Regions from separate parts of the Homo sapiens genome. Here region 2 is linked to region 1. Evidence: fine-mapped expression QTL. Tissue or cell type: pancreas. Region 1 holds a variant in brackets; the other region holds the start of a gene. All regions are shown on one strand. Distances are from middle to middle.

Region 1 (2,894 bases):
ATGAGTGGGGAACGGGGTCGTGCTTTGCCTGGCCCTGAGGCCTCTCTTGGAGTCAGGCCACTGGGACCGAGTGTGTTGGTGGAAACTCCCTGTGCCCTCCGAGGACTGGGAGGCAGTGGCTGGCAGCAGTGGGACCCTGGAGCCCCCAGGAGACTTCTGCAGGGGGGGGTCTCACCTGGGTGTCGAGGAGTAGGGGTCTCTCGGTGGATGGGCAGGGTGTGCCCTATTGCAGGAACAGCATAGGCAGTGATCTTGGGAGCTTGAAGATGTGTGGTGGGGCAGGTTGGGGCGGGGCCGGGGTCAGGGTCAGGTGAGGCGGAGCGGGTGATGGAGAGAGAGGGGCTCTGTCAGGACCTGGGCCGGCAGGGACCTTCCAGGTGCAGCGAGGTGGCCTCGTTCCTCAGGCACTGGGTGCCTGGGGTGGTTCTGAGCAGAAGCCCCAGGGCCTCTGCTGTGTTAGGAGCATGACGCCGTGGAGGGCGGTCTGGACCGGGTCCCGGAGCTGAGCCTGTGGGTCCCCCTGGGATCTCAGCCCCGTGGGTCCCCCTGGGATCTCAGCCCCGTGCTCACGTCGTAAGGCCTGACCCGCGGCAGTGTGGCCTCTTCACCACCAGGGGGAGGCAGAGAGCCACTTAGTGGAGAGGGGCAGCCGGGAGCCTGGAATAGCTCCGTTTTTCAGACAGGGAAACTGAGGCTGGGAGAGGGCTACGGCTCTCCCACGTCACACAGCAAGCGAGGCGGGGCCAGGGCAGGGGGCTGCGTAGCATTTTTGAGACCAGAACGGGAAGGGAGTGTTGTCCAGCAAGTTAGGGGCGTGGGCACCTGGGGCTCGGTCCTGCTGTGGACTCACACCTGGGGGTGTCCCACCGCAGGGCCAGGAAGCTTCCGCCCCCACCATCAGCCCCCTGCATCTGGGGACCTCAGAAGCAGCCCTGGGGTGCCAGGTGCGCTCCAGGCTGGGCACACAGTTGGTGCTCAGTGATCAGAGCCCCTGCAACAAGTGGTCAGGTCTGCCAGGCACTAAGCCAGCCCTGCGGGATGTCCTTGCTGTCCACCAGGGGCCCAGCACCTGCAGACCCCGGTGACACCATCATGGAGAGACAGGCAGGAACGCAGCCCTGGGGCCATGGGCGTTGGCCAGGCCCTGTGATGCCTGTGCTGCCTGTGCTGCAGGAGGCTGTGAGGATGGGCGTGGGAACCCCTGAGCAGCCACTCGGGCACAGGTGGGGCTGGCTGCGCCGCCGCCCGGCTCCTGCAGAGGCTGCCCCAACCCCAATGTGGAAGAGTTTCAGCCCGGGCCCCACCCACCCTAGATGACCCCTCACAACTTTCAGGGAGGGCAGAGGCACGCAGTTCCCCAGTGGCCTGGCTGGACGTCACCCACACCTGCCAGAGACTCCGGGCCAGCGTCTCGTGCCTGTGCACGTGGCAGGCAGTCCATGCACATCAGAGGCTTTCTCTCTACAGACATGGCTAGGAACAGCCAGTCTTCCTGAATGGATATGGGGGTGGGTGGGGCCGCAGAGAAGGGGAAGAGCTGTTCCCTGACCCACA[T/C]CCCCGTCGGCCCCTGTATCTGCACTGGCCTCAATACTACAGCCTCAGGTCTGGGGAGCAAGGGCTGGATTGAGGAGTGTTCTGGGCTCAGGGACCGGTGTGGTCCTTCTGGTGAGCTCTGGGGTGGGGAGCTGACACTGGCCCCGTGTGGCTGCGTCAGGAGGGACAAGGAGGGAGGCAAGGCTGGACCAAGCAGAGTCTCCACTGGGATGCTTGGAATTTGGACTTGGACTTGAGTGGCCCCTCCAGGCCGGGCACAGGGGGCCAGCCCAGCCATTACAGGGCACTGGTCTGTGGGAGGGTGGGGGCAGCTGGTGGGGACTTGTGTTCACCCCTTGCGAAGCCAGGGCAGGCTTGGGCTGATTCCCAGGAGTTCTTCCAGCCTCACCTCTGTCACCCTTGCCCCCTCCGCTCCGGCTGCCGGGCCTTGGCCACGGGCGTTTGCATTTGCTGGTCCTGCTCCTGGGGCCCCTGCACTCCACATAGCTGGCATCCTGCTATCTCTGCTTAACTGCCCTTTTCGGAGAAGCTCCTGCCCCTCACCCTGATTTCTTTCTTTCTTTTTAGAGACAGGGTCTCACTCTGTTGCCCAGACTGGGGTGCAGTGGCGTGATCACGGCTCCCTGCAGCCTTGACCTCCTGGGCTCAAGTGATCCTCCCACTTCAGCCTCCCGAGTAGCTGGGACACCCGGCGCACGCCACCACGCCCGGCTAATTTTTAAAGTTTTTTTTTGTGGAGACACGGTTTTGCCATGTTGCCCAGGCTGGTGTTGAACTCCTGGCCTCAAGCAATCCTCCTGCCTTGGCCTCCCAAACTGCTGGGATGACAGGCGTGAGCACACGGCCACCCTGGTTTATTGCCAACACTCGGAACGCACCTATGTTTAGATGCTTGTTTGGGCTTCCTCTCTGTGACGGATCCTCCGGAGGTCCCGGCTCCTCCGTCTTTCTGCCACGCCATCCTCAGCGCCTAGAACAGTGCCTGACACACGGCAGGAGCCTGATGAGGATTTGTTGAATGAATGAATGACACCAGGGCTCAACGCCACTCCAGGACTCAGTCTTCTCACCTGTCAAGGGGGCTAGCACCTGGCCCAGGGTTGCTACCTGGTCCACTGGTCCAGGGAGACAGACCTGCTTGAGCCTGACTGGTTTCGTACTTGTGGGACCCCCGGGGCTGCCCCTGCCCTGCCCGGGGTGGGAGGATTGAATCAGGTCTCGTGGGGTGGGCAGTGGAGCCACTGCCAGCGGGCACACACCAGGCACCTCCTGCCCTACCCAGACTTGGGCTGAGCAGGGGAGGGACAGGGAGGGACTCGGGAAGAGAGCACAACGTCTCT
Region 2 (2,894 bases), 28 kb before region 1:
TGGGCCCTAACGCCTGTCCACCCCTGTGTCCCCCATCCCCCACTAATTCCCCCCGCCCACTGCCCCGCTGCTTCTGCTTCTTGATCTCTCCCTTCTTTTCCAGCTCTTCCGGTTCTCCTAACCGTTGCCCTGGGAGTCAAGAAAACCCGGTGCCAGGACCGGCTCCGGCTGTGCTGGCACGATATCCCCTGACATCCGCAGGTCAGGGACTGTGGCGGAGCAGCGGTTAGGGCCAGCCACATTCCCAGGCCACAAGGGCTCCCTGCCTAGCAGCTGCTTGCATGCCCCTGGTGACGGGGAGCTCACCACCTACACACAGGCCTCACTGACACTTAGGCAGCTGGCCATGAACACTACGGTGTCTCACCAGGGACCAGCCTCAGAAAAGATCTGGAACAGCACCATTGGCTGGGGTTGGAAGACCTCAGTTTCTCCTCCTCCCAAGGGGCACAGAGAAGCTGCCCTGACTCCCTGCCAGGGGCTACTGCGGGAAAACACCTTCCTTCCTGCAGGCCCTGCCCAGACAAGCCCTGGCCCCACAGCCAGGAGGGTAGGCCCCCCTCACATGGCTGGTGTCAGTGATTCCGCCCTCGTCCAGCCCCCGTGGCCACAGACAAGGTTCCCCAAGGATAACGGGGCCAGGGGCCAGTCTGGGATAATTTAGGGCCCCAGCAGAGGGACTTTCCTTATTTCTTCTGTCACAGCTCAAAGTGGAAAATTGGAACTACCCTGCAAGTCAGCCTGAGGAATCTCCTGCCCCAGGAACAGATCCTGCCCACAGGCCCCCAGAAGAAAAGCACAGGCCAGCTGTGCAACTCCGGCTCCACGGCCCCCTTCCTGGCCTCAGTTTCTCCTCTGGCAATGCCCAGGCCTCACCTCTGCCTTGCCTGGAACCCCCGCTGGCATGTAGCGGCCTGGAAAGAGAAACCAGATGCGGACGTCCTTTGAAACCCTGAAACACAAGGCGCCTCCTGCTCCCCGGGAGGCCGGGCTGCCGAGGGCTGAGGCCCTAGACAGGGCAGGGTGTTCGAGCCTCAGTGTCCCCGTTTGTCAACGGCCTTTCCTGCCTCTTCTCCATGGCGGTGGGGTGAGATGGTGGTGGGAGGTGGGGCGGCGAAAAAGAAAATTCCAGGTCTCCGCAGGGGTCCAGAATGGCAGGACCCCCAAGCAGACCGCGCCCCTTCACCGGTTGGGGGTCTCGGCCCTCAGCGGCGGGGCGGGGCCTGGGGAGGGGCCAGGCGGCGTGGGGCGGGGCCTGTCGGGCGGGACCTGACAGCGTGGGGGCGGGACTTACCAGGAGGCGGGACGTGCCTAGGGCGCGAGCCCGTACTGGGGCCGGGCGGCGTGGGGCGGGGCCTCTCGGGAGGCAAAACCTGGAGGCTGGGGGCGGGGCCTGTCCGGAGTCGGGGCCTGCCTGGAGCGGGAGCCTGTGCCGGGGCCAGGAGGCGTGGGAACGGGGCCTATCAGGAGGCAGGACCCGGCGGCTGGGGGCGGGGCCTGTCGGGAGGTGGGGCCTGCCTGGGCGGGAGCCTATGCCGGGGCTGGGAGGTGTGAGGACGGGGCCTATCCGGAGGCAGGACTTGGCGGCTGGGGGCGGGGCCTACAAGGAGGCGGGGCCGGCGGGGGCGGGGCCGGGCTCGGCTTCTCTTAGGGACCCGGCACTCGTCGCCCTCAGTCCGGCTCAGCTGGGGCTGGGCGCCGTGGGTCTGGCGGTTCCGTAGCGGTCCCAGCGTCTGTCCCGCCGGCCGGGCGGTCGCGGCACAGCCGCGGGAAGGTGTCGGAGGGCGGTTCCGCCGCGCGGCGGGCGCGCCGCCCACATGGCGGCCATCAGGGCGCTGCAACAGTGGTGCCGGCAGCAGTGCGAGGGCTACCGCGACGTGAATATCTGCAACATGACCACGTCGTTCCGCGACGGCCTGGCTTTCTGCGCCATCCTGCACCGCCACCGGCCCGACCTCATGTAAGTCCTGCCTGGCGCCCTTTGATTCTTCTGCTGTTCGGCTGCGCGCTGACACGGGCGGGGAAACTGAGGCCCGGGCGGCTGGGGGATGGGGAGCCGAGGCGTGGGACTGGGCAGGCACAGCCCACCGTGCAGCCCCCCGAGGCTGTCCTCAGTGGCCTCAGTGTGCCCGGACACCGAATGCAGCTGGGCCAGAGCCATGGCATCCCCCGCCCGCCGGCTGAGTCAGACGTGACTCAGGGCGGCTCCTGGGCCCTGGCTTCAGTCCAGTCCCCCTCTGTGTCCCTGGGAAAGGCCAGCAGAGCTGCCTCTTTGGGCCCTCCGAGGCTCTCACTGCCCAGGGGCCTGGCCACCAGATGGGGTCCCTGGATAGCCCTCGTATGGGCACTGACCCTCCCCCAGCCTGTTCAGGCCCCTGGGGGGATGTGGCCAGGGCCACTGTGGGGGAGCGGCCAGTGCAGGGCAGGAAGCCCCCAGACCCCAGGTGCTGCTGCCAGCCGGGCCTCTGAGGCCCCGGGTGATAGGGCCCGAGATGGAGAACAGCCCCCATCTCTGGGAGCAGCAGGAGGTGGCAGGGGTTGAGGACTAGGCTGTCTCTCCCCAGGAGGGTCTTGGCGTGTGTAGCTGGGCAGCTGGCCCTGCCCGTTGCTGAATCTTGGCCCGAGCCTGGACCTGCTCCATTGTTTATTCACTCAGCAAACGCTCTTTGGCTAAATGACTGGGACCAGGCTTGCTGGGACAGAGATCTGTGTGTCGGGGCTGGGGGCCAGACGCTCAGGAAGGGGGGCCCTCAACGGCCACCTGCAGCCCAGGCACCTTCTGGGCAAAGCGTTCTCCTGAGTGTGTTTTTGGTGGGAAGGTCTCGGGGTTGGGAGGAGCCACAGGCAGCACCTGGGGCCTCTGTCAGGCCGCAGCTGTGCAGACCAGAGAACCG

The links. PIP is the estimated chance that this variant, and not a neighbour inherited with it, causes the effect.
Region 2: MICALL2 starts here. The variant in region 1 is fine-mapped to the expression of MICALL2 in pancreas (GTEx, PIP above 0.99).

The regions. Positions count from the first base shown.
Region 1 is chr7:1,430,369-1,433,262 of GRCh38, reverse strand. No RefSeq gene overlaps it. Among named protein-coding and RNA genes, the nearest start is that of MICALL2, 28 kb to the left of the region's middle. The variant T/C (reference allele first, on the strand shown) is at 1,555.
Region 2 is chr7:1,458,250-1,461,143 of GRCh38, reverse strand. It overlaps MICALL2 (MICAL like 2), which reads left to right and starts at 1,674. Exons shown (of 17, transcript NM_182924.4): 1 at 1,674-1,960. The coding sequence starts at 1,818. It overlaps MICALL2-DT (MICALL2 divergent transcript), which reads right to left and starts at 1,225. Exons shown (of 2, transcript XR_001745046.2): 1 at 877-1,225. RefSeq lists enhancers at 1-211, 1-299, 300-851, 2,275-2,894 and a silencer at 1,182-1,901.